Linked DNA regions of Homo sapiens: all the other regions are reported to be linked to region 1. Evidence: microRNA targets listed by miRTarBase, many of them from high-throughput screens and not tested one by one. Region 1 holds a microRNA gene; each other region holds the end of a gene's coding sequence.
Evidence for each region. The annotated mature microRNA hsa-miR-190a-3p reads CUAUAUAUCAAACAUAUUCCU and lies in region 1 at 4,986-5,006, opposite strand. An mRNA with a match to its seed (bases 2 to 7 or 8) in the 3' UTR can be bound and repressed. Matches are read on the target gene's strand: a 7mer-m8 pairs with bases 2 to 8, a 7mer-A1 pairs with bases 2 to 7 and ends in A, and an 8mer does both.

Region 2: miRTarBase lists CADM1 as a target of hsa-miR-190a-3p. Seed matches in the 3' UTR shown: 7mer-A1 at 1,589-1,595, 7mer-m8 at 2,406-2,412, 7mer-m8 at 2,408-2,414, 7mer-m8 at 2,410-2,416, 8mer at 2,412-2,419 and 7mer-m8 at 2,420-2,426.
Region 3: miRTarBase lists NEXMIF as a target of hsa-miR-190a-3p. Seed matches in the 3' UTR shown: 7mer-m8 at 6,365-6,371, 7mer-m8 at 6,347-6,353, 7mer-m8 at 6,309-6,315, 7mer-m8 at 6,299-6,305, 7mer-m8 at 6,297-6,303, 7mer-m8 at 6,295-6,301 and 5 more.
Region 4: the mRNA of MARCHF6 is a reported target of hsa-miR-190a-3p. Seed matches in the 3' UTR shown: 7mer-A1 at 3,333-3,339, 7mer-A1 at 3,341-3,347, 7mer-m8 at 3,350-3,356, 7mer-m8 at 3,352-3,358, 7mer-m8 at 3,354-3,360, 7mer-m8 at 3,356-3,362 and 24 more.

What each region holds. Positions count from the first base shown.
Region 1 is chr15:62,821,522-62,829,013 of GRCh38, reverse strand. It overlaps MIR190A (microRNA 190a), which reads right to left and starts at 5,057; the gene lies at 4,973-5,057. The region is part of intron 54 of TLN2 (talin 2); the gene reads right to left.
Region 2 is chr11:115,169,674-115,177,165 of GRCh38, reverse strand. CADM1 (cell adhesion molecule 1) reads left to right here. Exons shown (of 12, transcript NM_001301043.2): 12 at 574-7,492. The coding sequence ends at 692. Among named protein-coding and RNA genes, the nearest start is that of CADM1-AS1, 220 kb to the left of the region's middle.
Region 3 is chrX:74,732,543-74,740,034 of GRCh38, forward strand. NEXMIF (neurite extension and migration factor) reads right to left here. Exons shown (of 4, transcript NM_001008537.3): 4 at 314-6,956. The coding sequence ends at 6,863. Among named protein-coding and RNA genes, the nearest start is that of RLIM, 120 kb to the left of the region's middle.
Region 4 is chr5:10,432,292-10,439,783 of GRCh38, forward strand. It overlaps MARCHF6 (membrane associated ring-CH-type finger 6), which reads left to right. Exons shown (of 26, transcript NM_005885.4): 26 at 1,303-7,492. The coding sequence ends at 1,393. Among named protein-coding and RNA genes, the nearest start is that of ROPN1L-AS1, 5.8 kb to the right of the region's middle.

The DNA of each region.
Region 1 (7,492 bases):
CTGGGGTGGGAGTCAGGAATCTGTATTTCTTACAGAGGTGGTTACACACTACTCTGTAGGAAATGCTGGCCTGGACTCAGGAAAACAAACACCATTTAACTTAAACCTACCAGCCTGTGATCCCCTCCAGGGTGAGACTGTGTTTTATTCAACCTATGTTTCTCTAGCACAAAATCAGGCAGAGGAGCCCATGTGATGATCAACATTTGCTGAATGAATATATCCATTCAAAATGCATTTCCCAAGTTCCAGAGTTCAGCCAGAGCACAACGCACAAGGTAGGAGAAGGAGAAATACACAGAGTAAGCATCCACATCATTAGCATCCACTCCTGAGCCCTGGTGGACAGATGCATACACAGCTATGAGCAAGTTCCTGCCCTGTTTGAGGCCTTGAGTTGTTAATTGTACACTCTACTTGCAGCCTTCAACTGGAATTCACAGTTTGTGACATTTAGTCATGCATGGACATACAAATGTAAACACAGTGGCATTTTACCAAGAGGCACTCTTATGTAACAAGACAGCACTGGGAAAAAGAGTGAACAGATGTACAAACTAAGCTTCTACTCTGCCTAATGAAGGTGTTTGTTGCTGCCTCTGCATGCTGAATTAACTTCTCCTTTGATATACTGTTCTTTTCCCCCTTCCCCTTCATTTGAAAAGGCTATTTGGCCAGGTGCCCATCAGCTCTAAGCAATCGTCTTTCCTGGGCTGTCTGGCCAACTCTTGCTGAGGACAGATTTATCCCTACCTGGGCTTTTTGGTAGCTTCTAGAAAGGTCTGAGTACCCTGTAGTTGACCTCTTCCCTGCATGCTGACCTTCCTTGCTCACCCTTTAAAAAGTCAGTGGTCTGGTGAGATCCCTCTTGGGAAAGGCTATATATTGGGTTGGCTCCCTTCCCCTGTTTCCCAGTTGGGAGAGTATTTGGGACCCCTTTATGTTGCTCTGATGGGTTTAAAGTTTCAGTAGCTATATGTCCCCTGGAAGAGGAAATGGTGGTGGTAGGGGAAGTGGTGTGGAAAGTGGAGAAGGTAAAAGGGACAGCCTTTCCTCATGTTTCTTTTGACATTTGGCCTTTCATGGATTCTGAGAACATGGTCTTCACACTAATTCATTCATCTTCTAAGCCTACTTCCCCTCCTAACCTATCTGATGGAGTCATTACAAGCACGTGATTAGTATATGTAAAGCATGGCTGACTCATAGGAGATGCTCAAAAACTATTAGCAATTTCATTATCAAAAATTGTTTTTTTCAGGTTTGGGGCTAAATTAATCTGTTTCTCTGTCTAAACCCTGTTATGTATCCATAATTCCAATAAAAATTCTTCTTGCTATTTCTGATTACAGCCTAAATTCATTATAAGTAAAACCCACAAATCAGTAAGCGTCAGGTACCAAACAGCATAGATGGGCACCAGCTCCTCTCTCAGCACCCAACCAGGAGTGGGACAATCCGGGTGGTAGTCACTGTTCTGTACTTTGACTATGTGACTGTGGAGTCTTCGCTGCCCTTTCTCCAGGTATCAGTTACTCAGTTTTCTGTCACTGGAGGAGCAACTCAACCTTCCTGGTCCTTTTGCCTAGACATGGACAGTTCCAAATTAAACTTCTCTTAGAAGGCGGTGACTAAAATAAGCAGGAACTACCTTTTCTCTTCTGATTTCTCTTGACCTCCTCCTCAATATCCTTACCAACATCCCCCACTGCCCCCGCTCCTCCTCAACGTCCTTACCCACTTCCCCTGCTCACTGTCCTTGTCAGGTCCTGGGCAAGTGTTGGGCAGGGGAAGAGAATGTCCTCCCATGGTCTTTTTCTTGGCCTTTTCTTATGCCCTGCAACCCCACAGCTCCTTCCGCCAATGAACTTGAAGGTGAAGGAGCATAAGGCATGCATAGGAGATGGCCAAAGGGCTTGCCTCCCTCCCTGAAAACTTACTTTGAGGGAATGCTTTGTTGAGAGCTAAAAACACAATGGTCGCCCTTCTCACAACTGGCTCCACAAACTGAAGAACCACCCGTGTCATCTTTCCAGTGGGGTCTCAGGCTTTGCTCTGTGTTACTCAGAGTCTTGCAGAATGCCTGCTACTAAAAATAAGGTCATAGTGCATCAGAAACTTTAAAAAAACCCTCTTGGATATATATTTTTTAAAGTGTGAACATTTTGCATTTAATTTAAATGTCCTTGAGGGAAAAAAGGAGGCCAGTGTCTAGAACTCCCACAACAGGAGTGAGGCATTTTCCTGCCAGTTGGAAGCCGGAGTGGAGCAGGCAGCCACATTTCTCTTTTTTTTTTGTTGTTGCAAGTTTGGCTGCTACTAGTTTGCTTCTGGTATTGAACTGAGAGGTGCCTTGAGGGAGGCCTTAGCCTGTATGCAAAGCCCCAAACTGTGCAAAGGTTAGATCAGCTTCTCCTCTGGAGGACCCATGGATGGGGTGGCTTCAGGACTGCCACCTTTATTAGTTCAAACAAAAGGTACACCTCCCAGAACAACTGGAACTGCTAAGAGCCAGGCATGGACAGCTGGCCTTGTCTCAGGGAAAGCTCCAGAGAGACCTTAAACAGGCAAAATGGGTGGCAGAGAAACTGCCAAATGGCTGTGCCTGTGACTGGGGAGGGACCACACCCTCCGCATCCGAGGAATACGCGCGAGTTCATGCAGTGTCTGCTGGAAAAGGTCCGCACCTGCATGATTAGTATCTTGGGAGTAGTTTTCCCATAGTATCCATTGCTTTACTTTTGTGTTCAAAATGGAAAGCAACGCCACTGAAATAATCTTTTAATCACTATTTCTGTTTAAGGGGCCCTTGAATGTCGATATAGAAAGCACAGACAAAAGATAACAGGGTTCTTCCCAAGCTGTATCAGATAAACTCCCTACATCTTAAGCCCCCTTTCTGTGTCTGTGAAGGATCTGACAAGGACCTACTGGTCTACCCTGGAGGGGAGTCTCCCATACTTGCTTTTCTTATTTATTTATGTTTTTGAGACCGAGTCTCACTCTGTCACCCAGGCTGGAGTGCAGTGGCACGATCCCGGCTCACGGCAACCTCCGCCTCCCAAGTTCAATCGATTCTCAGCCTCCTGAGTAGCTGGGACTACAGGCGTGCACCACCATGCCTGACTTATTATATATATATATAAATATATATATATATAATATATTTATATATATTATATATTATAATATATATTATAATATAATATATAATATATATTATAATATATAATATATTATATAATATATAATTATAATTATATTTAATATATATAAAAATATATTTTTATATATATTTATATTTATATATATATTGTATTTTTAGTAGAGACTGGGTGAAACCCAGCTGTTGGTCAGGCTGGTCTCGAACTCCTGACCTCAAATGATCCGCCCACCTTGGCCTCCCAAACTGCTGGGATTACAGGTGTGAGCCACCATGCCCGGCCCCATACTTGCTTTTCACACCCTGTATGCTCCTGGTCTGGAACCAATGAGTGCCACTCAAAGCCCAAGTGCAGCCATACAGAAAATGCTGTATTTGTCCTCCTCCTTCCTGAACAGTTGGTTCCTTTTTCCCTTCACCATATTAATCACTACAGAGAACATGCTGGTCAGTGACAAAGTCACCCAAAGAAACAAGAAAATCACATCAATTCAAACAACTGGGCTTCGTCTGCAGGTCCTTTTGAAACCATGTTTTTCTTTGTTCGTAATAACTTGCTGTCTCTTTTCCATGGCCATTTGCCATTTCAGTCAAACAATGTAACTGGACTCAAAACCAAAGCCGGTGTTCTCTAGCTGTGTGAAGGAGGGACTGATTGGGGCAGCATCTTGAAACCCGCCTGACAGAGCACCTGCCAACACACACAGATCGCTTCTCAATGGAGAAGGATTCCAGAGACAGGATCCATTATGTAACTCCAGAAGCCAGGACTCCAACATTACAGGACCCTCTCCTGTGTCATCACCTCTCTGATGTTGCTGTTGGTGACCCTGTCACTATGCATTCACCTGTAAGCAATGTGGCAATGACTTCTAGACACAGTAAGGGGAAGCTTTCATGACTACCTGTTTAAACCATTTGCTTACACCTTTTCTCCTCCAAAACATTGAGAACAGTAGTTCTCTTTCCAGAAAGCAGTGCTCACAAAGTATTTTGTTTGTTGAGAGAACTCAGAATGAACTCACACATACTTCACAGGCTTTTCTATAAGGAAGAGGTCAAAACCAACCAAAGAAGGCTGTTATGTACCAGAAAAAATGTTTTCTATATCATAATCCCAAACTTCCTGCCACAGTCAATTAGGCTATGATATTACTTTCCGATTGTTGGCTTATTCTAAATATTACCAACCTCCACTGACAAGTTAACCTATAACAGGAAATTCAAGAGTTCAGTCAACATTATATTACCTTCATGAGATATATTTAGTCCTATATCCAAGGTTTGTACAAAGCTCACTGACTCAGTATCCATGCAGCTGGTATGGAGGATTTGCTTTATACATTCTGTTACTGTGAGTGGAAAGGGAAGTCATAGAAAACTGATCTGTGCTCCTTGAATTTTTGCTGAAACCCTGACATGAACTTCTAAATTGAAGATCAGGATAAAAATGAACCAAAATGAAACATGAATCTAGATGTGTTTGAGGCTATAATCCTGACCTTTATTCTGTGTCACAGACATGGGTTGGAACCGTTTTTTCCACCAAGCATATTGAATTCCTTAAGGATTCATCACTGCACAAAACTAAGCCACACAGAATACCCCAGGCTCTTATGAAACATCAACACTTATTGTTTCTATAATAAGCAAGTAATCCAGTAATACTGATACAGGTCTCAAATGCTATAAGAAGAAATGGAAGATAACATGAATTGTAATGAGTGCTCCATCTTCTAAATCTACTTGTGATTTTAACGTGTTCTTTCCTGTTGCCTTATAAACTTTATTAGGAACCCCCGGAGACAGGGCAAGACACTGTAGGAATATGTTTGATATATAGTTGGATTAAATAACAACCTAATATATCAAACATATCACACAGAGGCCTGCAGAAAAGGCATCCAGGTTTGACTGAGCTCGAGACTAGGCACAGTATTGAAGGTTACGGCTGCAGGGGGTGGTCACTTTTGCAGCAACTCCGATAACTGTCTTTGGAGCACAAGTCTGCCTGCAGATGTGGAAACGGCGCCATTAACAATACTGTCAGCACATGCACCAGCGCTCACTGACATTCTCATCTCCCCAGGTGAACAGCAGATTCAACGGTGCATGTCTGGGAGATCCCAGGCAAAAAGTGATGCTTAAGTTTTAAGAGCCTGAGGTGGAAATGTACCAGAATCATCATCAAAGACCATGAGCCATTCTCCTTTAAAAACAGGCAACCTGAGACGGTGGTGAGCAGAGCATTTTAGACAAAATTACTGTCTCTCCCCAAACTCTTCCTGAAAGCAGTGTGAATACTCCCCAGAAGGAACACACATCCATTTTATACTGAAGGCATGTGTGTGTACCAGGGTAGGGTTATAGGGATGTAATAAGCAATTGTTTACTGACAGTACCCTGAGGATTTTTTTAAGGTTTTGGGAGAGAATGGAGAGAAGTGATTCAACTCAAAAGACTGGCTGATTTTGGTGCAGATTGTTGTTATTGTTTTTTAATTGGGGAAATAAATTCCTTTATAAAGGCAAGGAAGATATTTCATGCAAAAGTTATTGCAATGTGCCCTATTAGGCACAAAAACTATGGTTTGGGTTGCAGGTTTTCCAAAACAGTTTCATAGATAATATCCACCTCTGGCCATCAGGCAGAGAAAGACTTCAGACCATTGTGAAGCATTCTAGAAGTACCCATCACCCTTCCTAATACGATGGGAGTGAGCTAAGGTAGGAACCCTCAAACAAAGGATTCACATCATCAGTTATGTTAACCTTGACCTTGGCCGAAGGACTCCTTGGCTTTCCTGTAAAAACCCTCAATGTAAACACAAAGGCTATATGATCCTAGAGTACTGTAGGGAGTCCTCACAGGCCTACTTCAGCAGTCATTAATTTTTAAGGTGCTGTTATTTTTTAAACCTTTGTTTTATAAAATGTTAAAACACAGACCCTTCCATCATCCCAATTCCATCATCATTCTTGTACATTCCCTACTTATTTTCTTCATCTGTGAGTTTTTAGAGTTGTAATCATAATAAGTACATAATTCTGCATCCTTTCTGTTATACCATGAGCATTTTCTTCGTGCTACACAGTCCTAGCAACCATTATTTTTCATAGCTGCATAATATTATAGCTGCATAATATTCCTTCGAGGAGTAGCTCTAAGGGCACACATAAACTACAAATGGCCTTTGTGGGACTAGACAAGCCTTCTCTGACAATGGGGTGGGAAACAGGGGCTGGTATGGACTGAAACTGCCACCCAGGGCCATACATAGCCCTCCCAGCTGAGTGACAGTGGTCGGACCCTGGCAAGGTAATTCGCCTCTTGGTGCTTCTGATTCTAATGGACTTTTTCCAAGGATCAGATGAGTGACTCCCATAAAGTACCCAGAAGACTGCCTGGCACAGGCTTGGCAGCTGAACAACGCGAGCTTCCTGGTTTTCTTTCTTCAGGGGCCAGTGGAATAATTTTTATTTCAGGCATTTCCTAGGGAGTAAGTCCCAGACACACATTTTCAGTGATGATGGTGATAATAATGGTGATATAGTTACTATCTACCAAGTCTCACTGTATGTCAGGCAGTGTTCTTATACTATCTTATTTAATTATTATAACAATAATCCTATGGGGTAGGAACTTTAATAATTTTGTTTTCCCATCTGGAGTCGTGAAGTGAACGACCAGACACGGGGAAACCAGGACTCAGACAAGAGCTCAGAAGGACCCTGCGGAAGGACAAAGGGAAAGACATTGAAACAGGAGCTCTTAGAATATGGTGAAGTGTTAATGTTAAATTAGCACCAGGCTAATTCTCCAGGAGAACGAATGTGTCAACTGACATGGCTTCGGCATTAGCGGACAGAGCCCTCCCCAAGAAAGGCCATCGTGATAAATCAGACAAGGAAATGGAAAAACATCATGCACCAAACCTCTAAATCTTAGTTAATGGTTGACTCTTAAGTTTAAAGTACACTTTTCATTCACGATTAACTTGACTGACAAAGCAGAAACAAAGGCGTAACCAGAAAATGGAGTTGTCCCAACACCCACACTTGGCTCTTACTCTGACAATATCAGGCAACCCAAGACTCCCAGGTAGAGTCCAGCAGAGAGAGCCCTGGTAAACCCCACAATCAGAAGCCCAAATCCTTAAGTTACATCTTGATGAGAAAACGTTTAAGTGCCTTTACCAAGTCCAGAGCGACTATTAGGAGGTTGGTTCTAAGCACTCGAAGGTTTTAATAATGTTCCCAAGCTGAACAGACTCAGTCTGTGTTTATTTCATACACTACACTGGCCCAGGCACTGCTTTTGAGTGGTCTG
Region 2 (7,492 bases), not on the chromosome of region 1:
GAACCTCACTCTGAAGTGGAAGACAGGAAAATCAAACATACTTGTGCAAGTTCAAGCACCTTCTCACCTATGGGTAGGCAACAATGATTCATATAGACACGGGACGGTGGTTCAAATAAATGAGCTGAGGTGACAACAGAAGCATCATCAGGGCCCTAATTCATTTATTGGCTAATTGCTCTTCCTTGCTTTGGTCTTTAACAATGTACGTGCACATATCTGGTCATTGGTCATTGGTGTTTACTGTTTATACGTTAGTCAGCCCCTCTCCAGCTTTCTGCATTTTTAGCTCCCACTCACGTCTTCTTCTGCTGACATCCTCTGGTCATAATCACTGCTCTAATGTCTCATTTGCTGAATTATATCGCAGCGGTTCAGTTGGAGTGGTGCCTTTGGAACCCCCGGATCCCCCTTTGTCTCACCCACCCCGCTCTCTTCTTCCAATTGTTTTTTCCCCTCTGCTGCCTGCACACCACTTCGGCTGATGATGGCCATAAAGCAAGTTGCCATCTCTGTACCACTTTACACAGAGGCCATCAGACAGTCACGGTGCTTTACCCCTTCATCTTTCAGGTACATACTTCACTCATGAAGCCAAAGGAGCCGATGACGCAGCAGACGCAGACACAGCTATAATCAATGCAGAAGGAGGACAGAACAACTCCGAAGAAAAGAAAGAGTACTTCATCTAGATCAGCCTTTTTGTTTCAATGAGGTGTCCAACTGGCCCTATTTAGATGATAAAGAGACAGTGATATTGGAACTTGCGAGAAATTCGTGTGTTTTTTTATGAATGGGTGGAAAGGTGTGAGACTGGGAAGGCTTGGGATTTGCTGTGTAAAAAAAAAAAAAATGTTCTTTGGAAAGTACACTCTGCTGTTTGACACCTCTTTTTTCGTTTGTTTGTTTGTTTAATTTTTATTTCTTCCTACCAAGTCAAACTTGGATACTTGGATTTAGTTTCAGTAGATTGCAGAAAATTCTGTGCCTTGTTTTTTGTTTGTTTGTTGCGTTCCTTTCTTTTCCCCCTTTGTGCACATTTATTTCCTCCCTCTACCCCAATTTCGGATTTTTTCCAAAATCTCCCATTTTGGAATTTGCCTGCTGGGATTCCTTAGACTCTTTTCCTTCCCTTTTCTGTTCTAGTTTTTTACTTTTGTTTATTTTTATGGTAACTGCTTTCTGTTCCAAATTCAGTTTCATAAAAGGAGAACCAGCACAGCTTAGATTTCATAGTTCAGAATTTAGTGTATCCATAATGCATTCTTCTCTGTTGTCGTAAAGATTTGGGTGAACAAACAATGAAAACTCTTTGCTGCTGCCCATGTTTCAAATACTTAGAGCAGTGAAGACTAGAAAATTAGACTGTGATTCAGAAAATGTTCTGTTTGCTGTGGAACTACATTACTGTACAGGGTTATCTGCAAGTGAGGTGTGTCACAATGAGATTGAATTTCACTGTCTTTAATTCTGTATCTGTAGACGGCTCAGTATAGATACCCTACGCTGTCCAGAAAGGTTTGGGGCAGAAAGGACTCCTCCTTTTTCCATGCCCTAAACAGACCTGACAGGTGAGGTCTGTTCCTTTTATATAAGTGGACAAATTTTGAGTTGCCACAGGAGGGGAAGTAGGGAGGGGGGAAATACAGTTCTGCTCTGGTTGTTTCTGTTCCAAATGATTCCATCCACCTTTCCCAATCGGCCTTACTTCTCACTAATTTGTAGGAAAAAGCAAGTTCGTCTGTTGTGCGAATGACTGAATGGGACAGAGTTGATTTTTTTTTTTTTTTCCTTTGTGCTTAGTTAGGAAGGCAGTAGGATGTGGCCTGCATGTACTGTATATTACAGATATTTGTCATGCTGGGATTTCCAACTCGAATCTGTGTGAAACTTTCATTCCTTCAGATTTGGCTTGACAAAGGCAGGAGGTACAAAAGAAGGGCTGGTATTGTTCTCACACTGGTCTGCTGTCGCTCTCAGTTCTCGATAGGTCAGAGCAGAGGTGGAAAAACAGCATGTACGGATTTTCAGTTACTTAATCAAAACTCAAATGTGAGTGTTTTTATCTTTTTACCTTTCATACACTAGCCTTGGCCTCTTTCCTCAGCCTTAAGAACCATCTGCCAAAAATTACTGATCCTCGCATGATGGCAGCCATAGTGCATAGCTACTAAAATCAGTGACCTTGAACATATCTTAGATGGGGAGCCTCGGGAAAAGGTAGAGGAGTCACGTTACCATTTACATGTTTTAAAGAAAGAAGTGTGGGGATTTTCACTGAAACGTCTAGGAAATCTAGAAGTAGTCCTGAAGGACAGAAACTAAACTCTTACCATATGTTTGGTAAGACTCCAGACTCCAGCTAACAGTCCCTATGGAAAGATGGCATCAAAAAAGATAGATCTATATATATATATAAATATATATTCTATTACATTTTCAGTGAGTAATTTTGGATTTTGCAAGGTGCATTTTTACTATTGTTACATTATGTGGAAAACTTATGCTGATTTATTTAAGGGGGAAAAAGTGTCAACTCTTTGTTATTTGAAAACATGTTTATTTTTCTTGTCTTTATTTTAACCTTTGATAGAACCATTGCAATATGGGGGCCTTTTGGGAACGGACTGGTATGTAAAAGAAAATCCATTATCGAGCAGCATTTTATTTACCCCTCCCCTATCCCTAGGCACTTAACCAAGACAAAAAGCCACAATGAACATCCCTTTTTCAATGAATTTTATAATCTGCAGCTCTATTCCGAGCCCTTAGCACCCATTCCGACCATAGTATAATCATATCAAAGGGTGAGAATCATTTAGCATGTTGTTGAAAGGTTTTTTTTCAGTTGTTCTTTTTAGAAAAAAAGAAAAACAAAAACAAAAACAAAAAAAAAAAATCACACCATTGCTCACAGAATTGGCATCTCATTTTTGGGACCTCCCATCTTTCTGTTTTGAAAAGTGTACAGTAGTGCAGTGTTCCTGATGTAACTTTATGGCTTACAATGTTGACATGTCTCAGGTTCATGTGTTGCGATTGGTGTTTTCCGTCTCAGGTAGATTGCAAAGTGTAGGCCCCACACATTGGAAAAAATAATAATAAAACAAAGCAAAAACAGGAAATTATGGATTTTAGTTGTATATTGGTTTATGTATTTTTTCTTAAGTATACAGTGCACTGTTTGAAATGTATTGTTGAGTATTACTTTGTACAGGTTGATCACTTTTTTTAGAGTGAAGAAAGAACAAACTTGTTTTTTGTGTTTTTTAAAGGAATATAAAATAATGAAGGATGTATAATTGATGCCAAATAAGCTTGTTCTTTAGTCACACCGACGTCTTATTTTTCCCTTTAGGCCAGTTCTGTTTTTAAGGTGTACATGGACAATGTTACAGTGTAAGAAACTCCATATCCATATGTTCCCATTCGCATTTTGTATTGGTTCATGTATACCATTTTTACAAAAAAAAAAAGAAAAAAAAGAAGTACTATAAAATATCTGTCTTCTTAATAAAAAAAAATTAATGTTACAAAGTGATCCTTTAATCTCTTTATGGACTTCTTATGGACGCCTCCGAGTGAGAGAAGAGATGGGCCTCTGGTCCCAGCTTCCTCCTTAGGACCATGTACGGGGCCAGGAACGCTGGCAGTAGATGCTAGGACATGCTGCCGGCTGGGTTGCTGGGGGCCGCGCTCTCTCTCCTTCTCCGCTCATCCTTCCTGTCCTTGTTCTCTTCCCCACTCTCAGTGGACAGGTGAGCCAAGTGCTGTGCCGTGGCTGAGTCTGGGCTCCCACGTGGACTCAGCGATTTGTGCAGGTGTGCGAGCTGTCGTGGCGGGCCCGCCGGAACAGGCCGCTCCCGTAGATGTGTCTTCCGCACTCATCCCCTCTCTCACCGCCCCCCCACCCTCACCAACTTCCCTGTGTTGGCTGCTCCACCTGTCTCTTACTTTGGGAGTTTGTGTCTTAACAATTCATTCTGCCTTCTTCCTTGAAAGTTCTCTCTCCTTTCATAAAAAGAAGACGTGAGCTGTGGAGGACTGGCTTGGCTGCCTGCAGAAGATTGTTCTCACTTGCTGTTTAGGTTGCTGAGACTTCCAGGCCTGGGTAGACAGCAGGATTTGCTCTGTTGTCATCGTCCTTGCCTTGCAGGCTGAAGTGAGCAATGACTACACTTCATGGTGGCCGATCTTATAAATGTGCAGATAACGTCTGGCCAGGCCCAAAGTGCCCTTTTCCCACCATCCCCTCAGCTGTGGTTGATGAGTTCCCCTTTTCTCCCTTGGCCACGTCATGGGGAAAGTTCCATAGGAAAAGCAAAGGTAAGCTCCAGAAAGACTGAAGGCTGTGCATCTCCCCTTGAGCCACTTCCATCCTGGCCTGGTCTCTTACCTGTCTCTGTTAAAAAAAAAAAAAAAAAAAAAAAAAAAAAAAAATCAGATATGCAGTTATTGAGCACCTGCTGTATGTCCAGCATGGTGAGGGATGCAGAGAAGTATAAGGCGGTCTCTGGAGGCCAAGTAGAGCATCAGTTACATCACCTGAAAACTTGAAGTGACCCTGAGCCATGGGTGCCCCACTGAACACAGAGAAGCCCAGAGAGTGCTATGAGAATTTTCTGGAGAAGGGTAATCAGTGAAGGCTGGTGAGTCCCTAGACAGCTTCACAAAGAGCTGGGACCCCAGCTGGATCTTAAAGGATGGTTTCGTGGAGAAGGAATGTGAGTCAAAAGTACAGAGGGCAACAAGCCCAGCCAGCCTGCTGATTTGTATGGGGAGAAGAAAGCAATTCCGTGTGCAGGGTGGGATGGGTCTTGTGGCTGTACTGAAAAGTCCGGGCAGAGGACTCGATACTTCAGTGACCTCTCCCAGCCTCTGCCAGAGGGCAAGGAGCAGTAGGGAGTACTCATTCATTGCATCTCTATAAAAAGACCCAGAGAGATAGAATAAGGATCAAAAGCACACACTAGAGAGAGGCTGCCTGCATTCAGATCCCTGTCCCACCATGTAGCAGTGAAACCTCGGGTGAGTAGCCCAGCCTACCTGGCTTCAGTCTCTTGCTCTGCAAGGTGGACATCACCATAGCCTCGAAGGTTGTTAGGAAAGATCAGTGAGATATGCAGTCAGCGCTCAGCCAAAAAGGTGCCAGACACACACTACTTGTTCATTACATGTCAGTCACAGGATAGAGGCAAATGGTGACTAAAACGATAGAAGGTTACCCAGGGCTACGAAGAAGCGGTCACTACTCAGAGGGAGCTCTGAGGGCTCCTCTGCATATAGACACATCATGCCCTTGCAAACCACGACTTAGAAGGTTTAATGACCCTTTTCTCTTCACCATTCATTAGCAGACTTATTCCAAGCCACGTGGCATGCAGTATGTTTAGTCTCCCCACCCCTCTCCCTCTTGTCTGCAGCATGAGGCTCCAGCTTTAGCTGTACCCTACAGAAAAAAGTCCCAGAAGTTCCTTGAGCTGAGGCAGACAGGAGGTGGTGACTGCTGTACATTTGCCTTTTGAGCTCCACAGGGTATGCAAATGAGAAGGTGCTAGAAGCCGTCCCCGCTCAAAGGATCTTGATAAGTTGCCCACTCCTTCATTTGAGAAGAGTGCGTACGAGAGTGAAAATGGCCCTCGTTTCCCCCAGAGAGTTTTCACAAATGTTTTGGCCTGGCATTCTCCAAATACATCAACTGGAACCCTGAGGTGATATGCGGGTGTTAATTGGTGCAATCTTTCACTGTCCTCTGTCTACCTGAAATGTAATTCTTTTACCGCTGTGGACTTGCTCCATGGAGAAATGCTCCTTTGATTCTGTCATCAAGAACCTCAAAGAAACCATGTGGCCACTGTGTTACAGGTAGAAAGACCCTGCTTAAGTGAAGGTATTTTTGTTTTATTATAAAATCATGCCCAAGATTAATACACCTTTTTGCCAGGATCCCAAATACGCAGCCCTTTGTCATGAAGAACTGGCAGCCACATTCCTTCAGGGTGAAATTTGTATTCACAGCCATACATGTATAGTTTTTGAAGCGCTGGCCCCCCGTACAGGAGAAGAAAGAAGGGACTCTTGGCTCATCCATGACCTTGTAGGTCAATACCATATTAAAGTTCCTGTCAGGCACGCAGTAGTCACCCAGCAAGTATCAGCTGATTAAAGGGAGAAGAGTCGAGCACCTGGCTGACTGAGCCTTACGTTACACTTAATCTGAATGGGCCACCGATGCTGTATTTCAAACCTTGATGTTTGCATGTCCATCCTTACTACAGGTGGCTTTCAGGTTGGCCGTGAAGGGACAAGCCAGCCAGTCCTGAGTTTAGAGCGATTGGCCCTATCATTCTCAAGGACCCACTGGAATAGTATCAGGGAATATCATTTTGGGTAATGGCCAAGCAAAGCCTTAGTATTGCTATCATATATTGTGAGGGGCCTTCAGAATGCAATATGGCCTCTTTTAAAAATGCAAACTATAGTCCTTGCCTTATCTGTGTTTATCTCAAAATGTTGAAATGTGCCTCTAATAGGAACTGCAGGATTCAGTCCCCCCCCACCACCCCCCACCCAACACTCACATCATTACACATGAGCATCCCTGAACTGAGACCTGAAAGCAAGAATCTTCTCTGTTTTCAGGTGTTCCAAACCTCAGCTTCCAGCCTCTTCAGTACACAGGAAACTTTGTTTCATTTTTATGTTTTTATTTATTTTTTTCATTCCCAAAAAACATAAAATGTCTACTGCCCCTGGTGGTCAGTGCTGGGAAATACAACTCGAGCCTTGCCTATTGAAATGCAGAATGTATTCCAACAAGGAACCTGACATTGTCTACTGCTTTTTCTCTCACACACATGCACACCTACCTGCGCCTCCCATTTTACTCCCTCCTAATCCTTCGAAGTGTTGATCTGGGGAAGGTGAGAACCACTACTGAGGGGCAAATCAACCGGTTCTCTGGGCCCGGGACTTCAGCTGCCCTCCAGACGTGCACAGGCTCACAGTCATATTTCAGACGTGACCGCCTCAAATCTTCCTTAAGTGCTATCTTCTCAGGTTAATTAATCACCAGGCTTAAACTTGCTGTTACCAGCAGGAAGTCCATCCTGAAGTCAGCAATGTTACGATTGCATCTTCTAATACTGTTTATCCTGCATTAGTGTTTACTTAGGGGGAAAATTGATCCGTAATTGATATTTCAGTCTTCCAGAGCTGGTGTTGGAAGAGCCTAATGCAGGCCTTTAATAGCAAGCAAATATTTAAATCCCTTAATGGTTGCTGAATATTGAAATGTGTGACTTTATTACTCTTTTTGGTTTGTTTTCTCTGTAGTTGTGTATTTCATCGTTTAAACCTGCAATGGATGCTGGCAAGTGCAAGTCTAGCTAATCCACAAAAGCTGTTTGCCCAGACACAGCAGACCTGATTAAAAAGTATTGCTATGGAAGGGAATCTTCTGCACTAATCAGTCTCTGTTAGCTAGTGACGA
Region 3 (7,492 bases), not on the chromosome of region 1:
TTTCCTCATGCACACTTTTCAATTTCTTTGAGCGGTGGTGTTCAAAACCAAAGAAGTGACTGTTGGCTCACGTGTGCCTCAATGATCTTGCTATGGTTAGCCAACACTCCAGGCTGATGGGTGACTCAAACAGTTTGGGCAATTGAAAACAAAGTTCAATTTTTCTAGACATAGCAAATACTTTGAAATACTGGGTACTGTAGGGACTGAGTTCGGGAAAGTCCTGAATAAAGGAAACAAGGTTCATGAGTGAGTGGTAAGTAACATGATGTAGGAACTGTAGGGAATTATGGAAAATCTGACATCTTTTGGGTACCAGGCAAATCAGCATTTATTACTTTCAATAAACAGCTTTAACACTTTGAGAGGACTGCATCTCTGCAGATTCCATCTGGATCACAAAACAAAGACACAATTTGTTTTAAGGTCTTTGAAGACTGGACACACTAGAAGATGATTCCTCAATTTGAGGGGCAAAAGAATCCCCTACACAAAACTCTAGCCCAGTGCTTCTCAAACTTTAACATGCACACAAAACACCTAGGGATCTTGTTAAAATTCAGATTCTCATTCAGCAGAATTGGTGTAGGGCTTGGAATTTCGCATTCCTAACAAGTTCCCAGATGATGGCAATGCTGCTGGTCTAGTCAAAGTATTATTCAAAGTATGATTAGAACCTTCTATGGCAATTTGACATTGATGAGTGGACTTGTCTCAAACAGGGTACCAACTTTTTGCAATTCGTTTCTTTCCCCTTATGTTATGTTTATCTCGAAATGTAATTTTACATGTTAAATCTAATACATTTGGGCTTTTATTTTGCATATCTTTTTTCCATTTAACTTTCTTAGAAATTCATTTTTGTTGTGTTTTATAATAGTATTGGTCTGTGATGGATTGCAAAAACTATTGGTCCCTCACCACAGATAGTTTGAGAAACACTGCTCTAGATGATAAAGAACGTTTTATTTGGGACATAGATTTAATTAGAAATGGTTTGATTTCTAATACATATGATTCTAAAGCAGTATTTTAAACTTTTCTTTTTATTTATTTCATAAACAATAACAAAACTCAGCTAGGTAACATTATGACAGTTTCACCGTACATTCAGTCACAAATATTTGAAACCTTCGCAACAAGAACAACAAAACCAGAAGTGTTACAAGAATAATTTACAAGAAAATCTATAAAACAGCAAGAAGCTCACAAATGTTCATTTTTTTTGCACAAGATCACTACACTCTTTCACAACATGTTTTGTGTTACAAAATTTCCAACAAAAGTGTATTTTTTTTCTTTGTATTGTGGTTTCTAAAACCAGAAACTTTGAAGTAAATATCCTTTTATTAGCACCTAGTGGTGCAGAAAAAGGAAAACTCTCACATACAGACACTTCACAGCACTTTTCTAAGAAAAATATACACTTACAAAATATGTTACAAATTGGCACACTTAAAAATATACAAGATTTTGTAGACGTCTTAAGAGTGATCCTTAAGCTTTAAACTTCAATTGATTCTACAGATTATTTATAAAGCTTAACTCTAAAAGAAAAAAAAAGGCAAATAATTTCCTAACATTTTTAAGTTGCAGTGTCATATGTCAAACAGAAACTTAGGTTACATTCATAAAAAGGGCCTCTAACGCTTTTATTTTAAATTTTCTTAAATGCTTAAGGGGCTTGGGGAAGAAGAAAAAAATGGGAATAATCATTTTCTTTAGCACCATAAATCAGCAACTTACTAAAGAGGTGCATTCAGTTCTATGGAAACTAAGGACTAGTACATTCAAAACTCTGTAGGCAGCAAACTCCAGTCAGTGCTACAGGTAGCCCAGTAGAGCATCTTAAGATTTCTACTCTCCTCACTGGGAGTGAAAAACAAAAGGCCTCTTCTAGTTTTCATTCTAAGCCTTTTTTTGTGCTGTAAATAACCAGTCATCTCTCAAACAGGCAGAATGATTTCAATATCTCTTTTCTTCTTTTTGAAATGGGATGTCATTCTGAGACTCAGAAACCCCTGAGCTTGTTAGATGGACAGACATCCTTTCCATCTTATGTGGATGAGTGTTTCTTCAGTGTCTTTAGTATCAATTTACCCAGATACTGATTTTGAAAGCCTCATTCACACCATAAACTTTGTTCTAAACCTCTGTCTTTTACATTGTCCTTCTCCAATGCCTTACCTCTTAGTTACGATTCTGAAACCAAGAGTACATCTCAAGTATGTAGCTGCAATGGGAGCTCTGCTTCACGACTGTAGCTAGTGTTTAATGCTGAGTAAAAAATGTGCCTTAAAGGGTAGCCTGAGTCCTGTCATCAAAATAATCACATGCTGGCTGAGGACCCTCAAGCTGATGACAGTGTTTCCCAAGTTAAACAGCCCAACTAAAATTTTTTTCTCCCTTATTTGGGTCTTTGAGAAACCTTTACAAAATCCCTGGCCTACATTGTGTTGACAAGATTCCTGTTTGTTACTAAAAGTTTGATTTTGGTACTAAATCTTCTAAATGTAACTATAGGCTTAGTGAATTTTATGATTAGAAAACAAACCAACCTCACATTAGTTTTATTTTATAAAAAGAACATATTTCTGTAGTGATGGGCAGTCATTAAAAAAATCCCTAAATGAAAATGGTTACTCCTTAAATTAGATAATTTCTCAATAATAAAGGAGAAAATAAACATTTCTATTTCTAGCAATAGTTAGGACTAGCTAGTGCTCCATTCTCCTCTTCAGCATAAAAACTTAGCTCTCTTCAATTCTTGGAACTGTTCTGAGAGCATCTGTAAGCTGAAGACATGTTGGATCTACATCACACTGGTCCAGCTTGGTAATAGCAAGCATGGCTAAAAGGTCCTTGGATATGGTTTTTCTCCTTTAGGCAGTAAATGCTAATTGAAACCTACTAAAACAGAAATTCACTAGAACTGCAAAACCTCACATAGGACTTAGGATGCTTGCTAGAGTTGTTTATAGCTTTTGAAGCATCCTTTTGCCTCTCTCTTACACACACACACACTTCCCTCCGTAGCCCCCTCACACACGCAGATGCTTCCCAGCAAGGAAAAAGTTCAGAGAAGGTGAAAGTTGTCACAAAAGCCCAGCTAGCACCAAGGACTTCAGTGAGATGGCTGAAGAAGTGATGATCAAAGTAATGCAGGAGGTTTGAAAACATCAGGAAAAGGTAAGGCCTTGACACATAGTTGCAGAGTAACAAGAAGTCAGAAGGGAAAGCTGGGAGGAAGCAGCATATGTGAAGAAGCTGGTATAAGAGACCTTGGCGAGGCAGAAAGGATGGTCACTGGTTCAAGCCAGTTATCACAGCCCAAACATGACCCCCAAAGTCTCAATACCCTTCTCCATATAATATAGCACCTAACCAGGGCAGGAGATGAGACCTATTCTTAACAGATCTTCAGGGAAAAGGAATTTCTAAGTTTCCTCAGTCATGTGATATAATTTGTCCATGTGGGCACGAGTGTGTGTTTAAAATTATATTTGAGGGATGAAATACCACCTATTGGGTACAATGTACACTATTTCGGTGATGGGTACACTAAAAGCCCAGATTTCAACACTAAGCAATATATCCATGTAACACAACTGTCCTTGTACCCCTACTCTATAAAAATTAAAAAAAATTTAATTAAAAAATTAGATTTGAAAATAGCCAAAGCAATTAAAGGCAATTAAGAATGGGAAGGTTTCCTTCTGAACTTCCAGAAGAAAGCAGCCTAAGATTGTTGAGCCCTGACAATTTGGGCAGGTGGGATATGAGACCATAAAAGAAAAATTCTAAGACCAAGGTCTGAGATTAAGTAAGAAGAATAAGGGAGGTTACCATTTCCAGGAAAGTAAAGATTAAATGGGACTCTGTTAGGGAGGCATTAATAGGAAACAGCTTCTCAGAGGGGGAAGGTTAGAAGGGAGCGGTAATCAGGAATTTCAGACCAAGGATAATATATATTTCTGACTTGAGATACCAGTGATAGGGCAAAACACTATTTTTATACTCTACTAAGGCAGCTGGTTATGACAGGAAGAAAAAGAACTGTGAGAGCAGAGACAGGACCAACAAAATGCTAAATGATGAACATCTCAGAACACAATGTACTGAGAGGAATATTAAATGCAATTAAGAGAATAAACATCTTCTGCCTCGGCCTATTGCTCATTTCTCAAACTCTGTTTCTTTTTATGTTTCAGTACAAAGTGACTGGTTATGCGTCACTAATTTATATATTAAAAACATATAATACACTGCAGGCCAATTAAAAAGGTACTTTAAAATAACAATTCTCTTTGGAGAAAGGGATGAACTATGCCCTAGAATTGGCCCTTAATGGGCTCCATAGGAGCAACTGAAAGAATATCCATTCCAAAGGACTTATGATAGCAAGTTCTCACAAGGAAATTGTTTCCAACAGTTTCAGGCTGTCCTACCCCACTCACACCCCATTCTCCAAAGCTGAACTGATACCGAAAAAAAACTGGGACAACTGCTCCCATATTTACTTTTATAAAAACACATTGTATTAATGGAACATTTTCTTTATTTTTTCATTAATTGCCACCTTTTCATTACATAGAAAGCACTCCACTCCTCTAAGCCAGCAGGTGACTCTGAGGTCTGGAGTCTTGGGGATCACAATACAGGCAGAGTTGGTGATTCCAAGCCAAAATTCAGCTGCAAAACAGAAAAATCAAAAACAAAAACAAAAACAAAACAAAGACCAGTTTCTAGGGACTGGCCATAGCATTTAGTACAGCTAGCTATCAGAATAGAGAAATAGAAGAAGGTTTTCCAGTTTGGTTATTTTCCCTTTTGAATGGTAGCTATGGGGCAGGAGACATGTTTCATCTGGTGCCTTTCCACTAAGTAATTTTCCAGGGCTCACTGCAAACAGAGCATTAAAGCCTAGGAATGGGCCTGTACCAGCCTCACAGAATGCTCCTCACCCACTCATCCCCACAGACACAAGAGACTGACGCTGGGAACACACATGATCAAGAACACAGGCTTGTTCATTTTACGACCCAGCTGTAAGGAATAGAGCAGGCTGGTGAAAGGAATCATGGACCGGGAAGTGTATATACTTATATACATGACAGGCTTCCTTCCATTTCTCTCTGACTACTTTCAAATGTTGCTTCTCTGTTTGTGAATACATTTAGGTGGCATTGACTAGGTAGGTTCATATTTTGCTTAAAATTTTCCTTTTGAAACATCTTCCCTTTTTTTGTTAAATCCCCTTTTTCCCTTCCCACTTATTCTCCACCCTCCCACCCCAGCCTATATATTCACAAGTTAATAGGTTAGTAACAATATTAATAAGAATAGTAACAACGACAACAACTAACAATATTAATAATATTAATCCCCTATATCTGTATAGCACTTTATGATCTACAAAGCGCTCTCACATCCATTATCTCATCTGTGCCATAATGCATCAGTCATCAGATGCACAGGCCTTCAATTGTGCAAAGAAAAGAGATCAAATGTTAGAAGTCAAGTGGTGAATAAAAGGGAAGAAAAAGTAGTAGTGAGGAATGTTGGGGCTGTGAAATTTTTTTTAAAAAGTAGGGGGAGTACTGAATAAAAAATGTGATTTAAAAATTTGTACTTAAAATTGAGATTTAAGTTTAGTGTGTGGCATCAAATATTGGTTATCCTCAGACTAAGGGTATATGGCCCAAATCAGTTGTTGCCACAAATTGTTCATCTTATCTGATAGTAAATGTACTTTACTCATAAGAAGAAAAATTTGGTTGAACTGGGATGCCTTAACATTTTCTTTAAATGACATTGGCATTGCAAGATTAAACACTGAAAGAACACTAAAGCCATGATATGAGTGCACTTTTGACAAAACTGGAATAAAACATTTAGGAAACTATTTAAATAAAAGCATTCTATATACTTCATTTATCATTAGTGTTGATTTTATAGCTATTTTTATAATTTATCCCAGACTATTATAAAATATATAAAACTGAGATATAAAGTATCAGCAATATAACTTTGCACTTTAAATAATTTTCAGCTACAGATTTTGCTTTTAGAAAACAAACTTTGAAAGCAGCTGTTTTGTTTCCTTGTAAAACGTTCTGTAAATGCATATACTTGGGTCCCTGATGGACTTAGCTGTTGTGGCCTTCAGACTTTTCCAAAATTTTAACCCTTACACAATGGAACAAGAAAATCTTTATTTTGCCTTGTTTAGCTGTTCATGTTTCCACACAGGACAGTAGAGTCTAAAACTTTAAAAGAACGTGTGTGTGTGTATATATATATATACATATATATACACACACACACACACACACAAACATATACATATATATGTTTGGGTGTGTATATATCCATTTAAAAATAATTAATGAGCTTTAAACTGTGGGTGAATCTGTGAGATGAGGTAAGAAAATTTGGCACATTTCAAACAGTATCCTTTAATTTTGGTAAATTGTGTAACACAACATATTTTTCCACCATGATCTACAGGTGCTATCCACATAAGTGGGGGTGGTTAATAGCAAGAATCACTGGAATGTTTCTAGTAAATTAACAGGGACAACTTCCCCAAATACAACCAAATGTTGATATAGAAGTAAAAATATATACAGTACAGTCACTTGTTTGTAGTTTGGCACAATGTTTTCAATTTTTTCCTTGTGGGTAAATAGTGCATAAACTACTTGTGCAACTGTATGACTTTTTAAGTCTTTTACATAGAACATGAGATTAAAGTTTGCTCCAAAGACGTATTCCCACAATTTAAAATTCTTTTCTTTAAGCACTTACATGTCAACATACATACCACAAGGCATATTTTGAAAGAAATAAAACACAAACATCAAATGTCTTTCTGGAAAATGCGAGTCTCTTCTTCAAACACAGGTAAAACCCAAAAGGTTGTTTCTGCTTTTAGGAGATTGTAGTCGGAATCCCTGCAGAAAAATCAAACAATTTATGCCATCTGAGTTAGTTTTAGTGTATGTCCCACAAAGGGATCATACAAGCTAAATTTGTTAACATCATACTAGATGCCGTATGATGTAGAAAAAGATACAAATAGCATGGGGCACTAGAAAGCCCTCCTATTTGCCACATGTTCAGATTTTGTTTTCCAGCTAATGCTCTTTTGTTTAAATGATCTTGGCTTTTTGTCTACATGACTTTTAAATTCTATTTTTCAAAATCTGTCTTACTGCAAAGCCTTTCACTTCCAAAAATCATTCAAGAGCATATTTTAATTCTATTTTCTTAATATGTAGTAACTAGTGATGAATAGCAGAAGAAGAAATAGCTTTGTTAGAGCTTATCCCTAGCCAAGCCACAACAAAATTGCCCAATCTTTTGGGTGGCTTAAAGGTATAGGGATTTTCATGCACTTTAAAATTTTCTTTTTACTTTGAAAAAGAAGGGAATGGGACAGTTTCTTTCATGCAAATTTTTGCTTTCAAGAGGGAAAAAATGAGGGACT
Region 4 (7,492 bases), not on the chromosome of region 1:
TGTCGGTCTCATTTCACTGATGAGTAAATGGAGGAAAGGGACGAAGGAAAGCTACCTGACAGCCTGTCATGTGCAGGTTTCACTCTCCCTCAGTCTCCTTCACTCAACTCTGTGGGCTTTTACTGGACATTCTCCCTGATCTGCATCTCTGCCTCCAAATGGGTGCCCTTCACACTTGTGCCCAGCCACCTACAGCTTGTTGCTTTCCAGCTTTGTCCCTGCTGTCCTCTTGGGATCAGCCTGCAAGCCATCTGCTCACATTAAGTAAGGCAGGCCTTCAGTGAGCCTTCGATGCAGCTGTCGCCCTTCCCTGGCATTGGAGATGTCTGTCTCCTTGAGTAGGATCTCCTGCCCTGTCACTCCAACTACAGTAACATCTGCCTTGTTTCTGCAGCCCTGTGGCCTTTGCCATTGCCTTCTCCTTTCATCACATACATAAGTTAGGAACACTTGCCATTCTGTTGTTGAACCATATTCTCCCACCTCCTGTCACTCATACTCACTCACTGCAATGCTGTCTTCCCTTTGACTTCACTGAAATTTCTCCTTTGATTTCTCCTTTCTTCTCTGTAACTAGAACTTCCAGTTTTACTTTCATCCCTTCCTACTTTTTTTTTTTTTTTTTTTTTGAGACGGAGTCACACTCTGTCACCCAGACTGGAGTGCAGTGGCACAATTTCAGTTCACTGCAACCTCTACCTCCCAGGTTTCAGCAGTTCTTCTGCCTCAGCCTCTCTAGTAGCTGGGACCACACACACCCAGCTAATTTTGTATTTTTAGTAGAGATGGGGTTTCACCATGTTGGCCAGGCTGGTCTGAAACTCCTGACCTCAGGTGATCCACTCGCCTCGGCCTCCCTACGTGCTGGGATTACAGGCGTGAGCCACCACGCCCAGCCCCTTCCTAGCTTTCTGATGGTCATGTTTTTAGTCTGTCTCCTTAGATCTGCCCACTAAGTTGTTTTATAAAATCTGAACCTTAACAGATAAATCCACTGCATAAGTTTACTGTATCCCTCCTGGCCTCCACAGGTCTGAGTTTCTGAGACCCCCTAAACCACTGACTGAAGCATGTCCTCCATTGCACAGCATTGGAGGCCTTCCAGCCTGTGCTGCTTCTGCAGCTTCCTACAAACCCATACCTAGGTAGATGTGTCAGCCTTTACAGGTGTTCACTCGGGACTCCCTTTGACTTGCCCAACCATTGACGAGTTTTAAGTAGGAGTTAGATTTAAAAAGACATATGAATGTTTTACTCTGTACATTCATAGAAGAGAGTAACCACCTTGTTTTTGCAACCTAGGTACCTTGTGGGTCAACGACTCGTGAACTACGAACGGAAATCTGGCAAACAAGGCTCATCTCCACCACCTCCACAGTCATCCCAAGAATAAAGTAGTTGTCTCAACAACTTGACCTTCCCCTTTACATGTCCTTTTTTGTGGACTTCTCTCTTTGGAGATTTTTCCCAGTGATCTCTCAGCGTTGTTTTTAAGTTAAATGTATTTGACTTGTGTTCTCAGCATTCAGAGAGCAGCGGTGTAAGATTCTGCTGTTCTCCCTGGATCTTCTGACATTACTGCTGTCTGAGATTTGTATATGTGTAAATACAAGTTCCTTGATACCCTAAAACCTTGGATTAAACAGAATGTGCATTGTACATCTTTAAACAAAATGTATATTAATTTATTAAATCTAGTTGTCACTTTATTTTGGACCTGCTGTGATCTCGACAGGAAACGTGCCACAGAGCAGTAGTGCGCAGGCAAGACTTTTCAGTGACGCCTTGTGGAACGCAGTTCATGATGTCCTAGCAGCTCTCACTAAGGGAACTGTACATTCTTTCTTTCTTGGCTATTCAGACCTTACCAAGAACGTTAAAGGAAACAAGTAGAAATCAGCAGTGGAGTGTCTGTGGTAAGAAAACATGAACTTTATGCTTCACTGTTAGTTGTTTGTGGAAGTTATTTTGTATAACACCAAAGCTGTTGTACATTTCCTACTGCCTGATTTTTTTCATGTGTCTGTGTTTGTAATATTGTATAGTATCTTGTGCTAGGTGAGGAAATTATTTTTAATTTTGATAATTTAATATTCCTAGTGTGATCAGCATTGGGAGTTGGGTTTCAGTGGGGCATGTCTATACTTAGAGAAAAAAAGTCCAAATGAAGATTTTCATGAGTCAGCCCCCCCGCCCGCCCCCACCCCACACCCACATCCTCTCTTTTCCACACACAACTATCTGTTTATTTTTTGTAGCAGTGGCCGAAAGTCCTGCAAGGTCATAAATCTTTCAGAGTGACATCACCAACTGTACTGCATCTTACTGGATTTAGGACTTCTGAGATGCTTGTGAAGTATAGATGTGGTTGTGGTCTTAGATTGACAGCATTAGAGAAGACTGGTTAGAACATCTGGTCTCGCTGGTTAGTGCCTCGTTGGCTGAGGACTAGGTGTGCATTTCTCCTAGCTTTTCATCAGGAAATCCCAAAGTTTCCAAAGCTTTTTGTTTACAGAATAAAACTTCAAATAAAACCAATTCATTATTTGTCCAGAAGGAAGCTTGGCTGAGCTGGCCTTTTAACATAGGAATGTATTTCGTTGGAAACATTCTGAAAAATCTCAGAGAACTGAACCCTTACAAACTTTGTTTTCCCTCATAACCAAAGCTTCAGGTTAGAAGTTTAGAAAAATAGAATGGTTGGGTACATGATCTAAATGTTTAATGCTAAAGGTATATCGTAAGGGTAGTGTTTGTTTTTGAACGATAATTTAGAAGTTCTCATAGAAAGCGTATAACATAGGTCTTCAGAAACTATAAAAGAATTTTCATATAGTATTAAAATCCATAGACTAAAATCTGAGAATTTTTTAACATATGCAAGTCAGCCAAACATAAGCTACCAAAATAAAGAGCAATGTGTTCTGGCTGTTTTATACTTCAACAATTTTTTCCCTAAGTGGTAAGCAATTACTTTAAAACATATTTTTAAAAACATCGGTATCGGGAGCTGCGGTGGCTCCGGCCGGTTGTCCTGGCACACAAGGAGGCGAGGCTATGCGTTCGAGGCCAACCTAGGCAAAATTGGAAAAAAAAAAAAAAATCAGTATCAGAAATAATGCTTGACATAGGATTCAGTGTTATACTCTTTGGCACTTTAGAGCAGCCTTTTCTCTCATTTGAAATAAGGTCTTTGTTAGCCCTACCTTTACTCAGAAATTTAGTCCTACTATAAAAAATTAGGATTTTAAAATATAATGCTGCCTGTCATAGTGTATTTCTAAATTGCTCTCTTTGGGAGAAAAACATTATTATTGAATTGAGCATATAACTATATAACTATATAACTATATATATATATATATATATATATATATATATATATATATATATATATATATATATATTTTTTTTTTTTTTTTTTTTTTTTTTTTTTTGCCCCCGAGACAGAGTCTTACTCTGTTGCCCAGGCTGGAGTGCAGTGGCACGATCCTGGTTCACTGCACCCTCTGCCTCCCAGGTTCAAGCGATTCTCCTGCCTCAGCCTCCCAAGTAGCTGGTACTACAGGTGCGTGCCACCACACCTGGCTTATTTTAGTTATTTTAGTAGAGATAGGGTTTCACCATGTTGGCCAGGCTGGTCTCGGAACTCCTGACTGCAGGTGATCCGTCCTCCTTGGGCTCCCAAAGTGCTGGGATTATAGGTGTGAGCCCCCACGCCTGGCCAACTTGATTATATTAATTTTGGGTTTTTTGTTTTGTTTTGTTTTGTTTTTTAATTTTTCAAAGAATTTGTGGATCTTGGTATAAAGTCATTGGAACATATCTGTTTTAACAGCAAGAGATCCTAGGCAGATACTTCAAAAGGTTAAAAATTCTTAATCCTACAGAATTTTAAATGAATCTTATCAATGTTTTGTAAACAAACAATATGAATGGCCAAAAAATTGCCCTCCATTTTACTGGCAGGTAATTTATATTGTCTTACTTAAGAATTCTCCCCTAGTTTTTCAATTGTACTTTATCGTGTTGTTTTCAATGAGATAAGTATTTTCATAGGGAAAGCATTTTCCAGCATAATATTTGCTTGGGTAGCATCCGGGTTTTAGTATTTAACCAAGAGCCTTTTAAATATTGAAAACCCATAGTTCAGAAAATGTTAGTATTGCTGCCCTTCTTCACATAAATTTTTTTTTAAATTATACTATTATTTTGCTTAATTTTATATTGGGTTAAAACAACCTTCAAGAAGGTTAACTAGGAAAGAAGACCTTTTTGTTTTATTTTTACTATTTATATATAGAAGACAAATCAGCATTTGGTGATAGTTTTACATGACCAGTTATCAAACGGTCATAGTATGAAGTGTGCAGTTGTTCATTATTAGTAAATTATGTTTGATTTTTAAACTATTTAGTACTAATAGTTGAGATGAAAACTGAAGAAAAATGCCAATGTGACGTTTGTGTATAGCTAGCCTTAAAAAACTTCCCATGTTTTTAGGTGACTTTTTTCCCCCTCTTAGTACTCTGGAGAAACAATGAAGATGGGCCATCTCAATTCCAGATGTAAACAAAAAGTAATTTTTATTTCAACATTTAATGTAACTGCTATTATTGTGGATTCTTGTCTTGTGTATTTTCTTTCCCTTATTCAAGTAATATAGAATAACTTTCCTTAAAATGATTTGATCCAAGATACGTCATTTCTGTATTGGCAAAATGCCACTATTAAAGTGTAATTCTTGAATTTAGGTTGAATTGATGACTTTTTAAAACAAAACAAACACTGGACAGTTCTACATTGTATTGCGTTTGCGAATGTGCGTGAACACACGCACACGTGCAGGAGAATGTAGTGCCATAAGAACACTGGCGCTTTTTAAAACTTTCCAAGCTAGCTACTTATTTTCATTTTCAGGGTTGAGTACTCTAAGCTCTCTACTTACTGTGAGAAGTTTTCTACATTGTAAAATTAAAAGATTATATTTAAAATACTTCTTTAGGATGTTATTCAGCCATCAAAAAAAAACCCAACTAAAATGTCTTACCAGTAAAGTATTATTAAAAGCCTCATTTGTGGAGATTCGCTGACTTCCTTGGTTAAGCTGTCTTGTATTTACTTAATTTGTCCCCTCAACCAGGTGTTTTCTTTTCAGCCTGTTACTGTCCTGTGCCATTTTTAAAAATAGCCATCATGAGTAAGGGCTTCTTTAAAATAATCCCTGACAATATCTTTGGCATTAATACGACATAAAGACAAGACAGTATATGTATGTTTTCATTCCTGTTTTGTACGAGTGCCTCATTTTGTAGTCATGAAAGTAACATAGTACCTTAAATAAAAATGTAATGACTAATCTAAGGTCTAGGAATAACTATTGTAGAAGCTAAGTAGAACACTTAGTTTGGGGTGTCAATTTTCTATCAACGCAAACACCTTAGGGTACCCAGACCAATTTTATGTATATATATTCTGAAATGCTCCCTTTTTAATGTGGTCATTTGTTGCCTTCTAAGTTGAGAGGACAAAACTGAATAAAGTGAATGTTAATTGTAGTCTAGTTTTTTTGTTTGTTTTTGTGTTATTGCAAGATTGCTTTAAGATTGCAGAAATATGCATTATTAGCCAGCATAGATAATCCAGATGTTATAATAGGAAGGAAAAACAACTCCAGTTAAATGTGACTGTGGCGACTCCCTTTTATGTATACATTTAAATGCATAGTTGCAGAGGACACATCCCTCCCCTTCTGTCTCCCTAACTTGAACTGTAGACCGTCCTCACTGGGAAGAGTAAGGCCCCACATTTTGTGCAATAGCAAGCTACTGCCCACTTCTGCATGTCTGCTACGAGATCAGAAAGTCAGTTTCACTAAGGTTGTCTTTTAGCTGAATACTTAGAGTAAAACCAATCAAATCCATTGTACATACCTGACCATATGTCCCAGATAAAAAGGAAAGACTTGCGTGATGTTTTTTTCCTTCTGAGTGCCCTGAGGAGATCCTTTTGCTTCAGACTATTTCTAATTTTTCTTTGTTTATAGGTTCAGAATTTTTTCCATGATTGTTTTCCCCCAAACAAGTGCATTTTTAATTACTTTAAATGCAGGGGTGATAGAGGAAATGCTATTCGAACCATAGACATCTTTAATCTGTGAAGCTGAAATTTTTCAGCAAAGGAAATTGCATGGTCAAGTTCAGAAACTGGCCATTAATTTCCCCCTTCCGCTCCACAGTTCATAGCTACTCTTGTTGCAAACATGTAGTGATAAGGAGAACTAACGTATCAAGGGGCTGAGAGGGTAACGTTCCCCTCCTCCTCCATGTTTTTATTTTGGTGTCTGTTTTGTTTCTAGCACTGTATTTAGTACTGTAGTTGAATGAGGTATGATGTCTCCCTTCAAGGAACTCAGAATGGAACAGAAGCATGAGCAAAAGATTGTATTACAGAGGTATGAATAAAATGCCATGGGGAACACAGAGAAAGGTTCACCCGGGAGAGATGGCCTAGCCACTTCCTTAGTGACTGTTTGGTATATGTAGGTCCCCCTGCCATTACTCTTTCAGCCTTCTGCAATCTAGTTCTACTTAGTCACACACTTCTCTAAGACCACTCATACGTAAACACTACGTAGAGGCCCCTTTTTGCCTCATTTTACATTGTTTAGTTATCATTTTGAAACTTTTCTTCACATATGTAACAGTGCCGGAGTTTTTCTGCTTCTCTGTGTTTGTTCAGTAACTCTTCTTTAGGATACACCTAAAGATGAGAAGCTTCATACCCAGTACTCCTCTTCATTCACTCATATGTTTTTGGGATCAGTCCCTTCTGCTGGCTGTGCATTGGTCTAATGGAACAGAATAGAGTCCAGAAATAACCCAACATGTATGTGGACAACTGGTTTTTGACAGAGGTGCAAAGGTCTTGAAAAAATGATGCTGGAATAATTGGGCATCAGATGCAAAATTAAAAACAAATTGATCCATATCTTAACACTGGCAAAGATTAAAGTCCAAATGGATTATAGTTCCCCAAAACTGTATAATTTCTAGAAGACAACAAGGAAAACGTGTTCAGCCTTGGGTTAGGAAAAGATTTCTTAAATCCAACACCAAAAGCACAATCCATGAAGGAAAAATCGATAAATTGTACTTTATCAAAATTGAGAACTTCTCTTTGAAAGGTACCATAAGGAGAACAAAAAGACAAGCTGTAGAGTGGCAGAAAAATATTTGCAAAACATTTCTGATAAATGAGTTGCATCTAGATTACATAAAGAAGTCTCAAAACTGAACAAGTAAACCCATTGTTTACTTAATCGCTGTTTCTCCTGAGCTTGCTGCCTCTGCCCCTGCTCTCTCTCCTTTTCCATTTGTTTTCAACATTGAATCCAGAATGTTCTTCTTGAGATCCAAGTCAGATCACACCAACCCTCAGAACTCTCCAATAGACGACCATGGCACTCAAAAGTCCACAATAGCCTTCAATG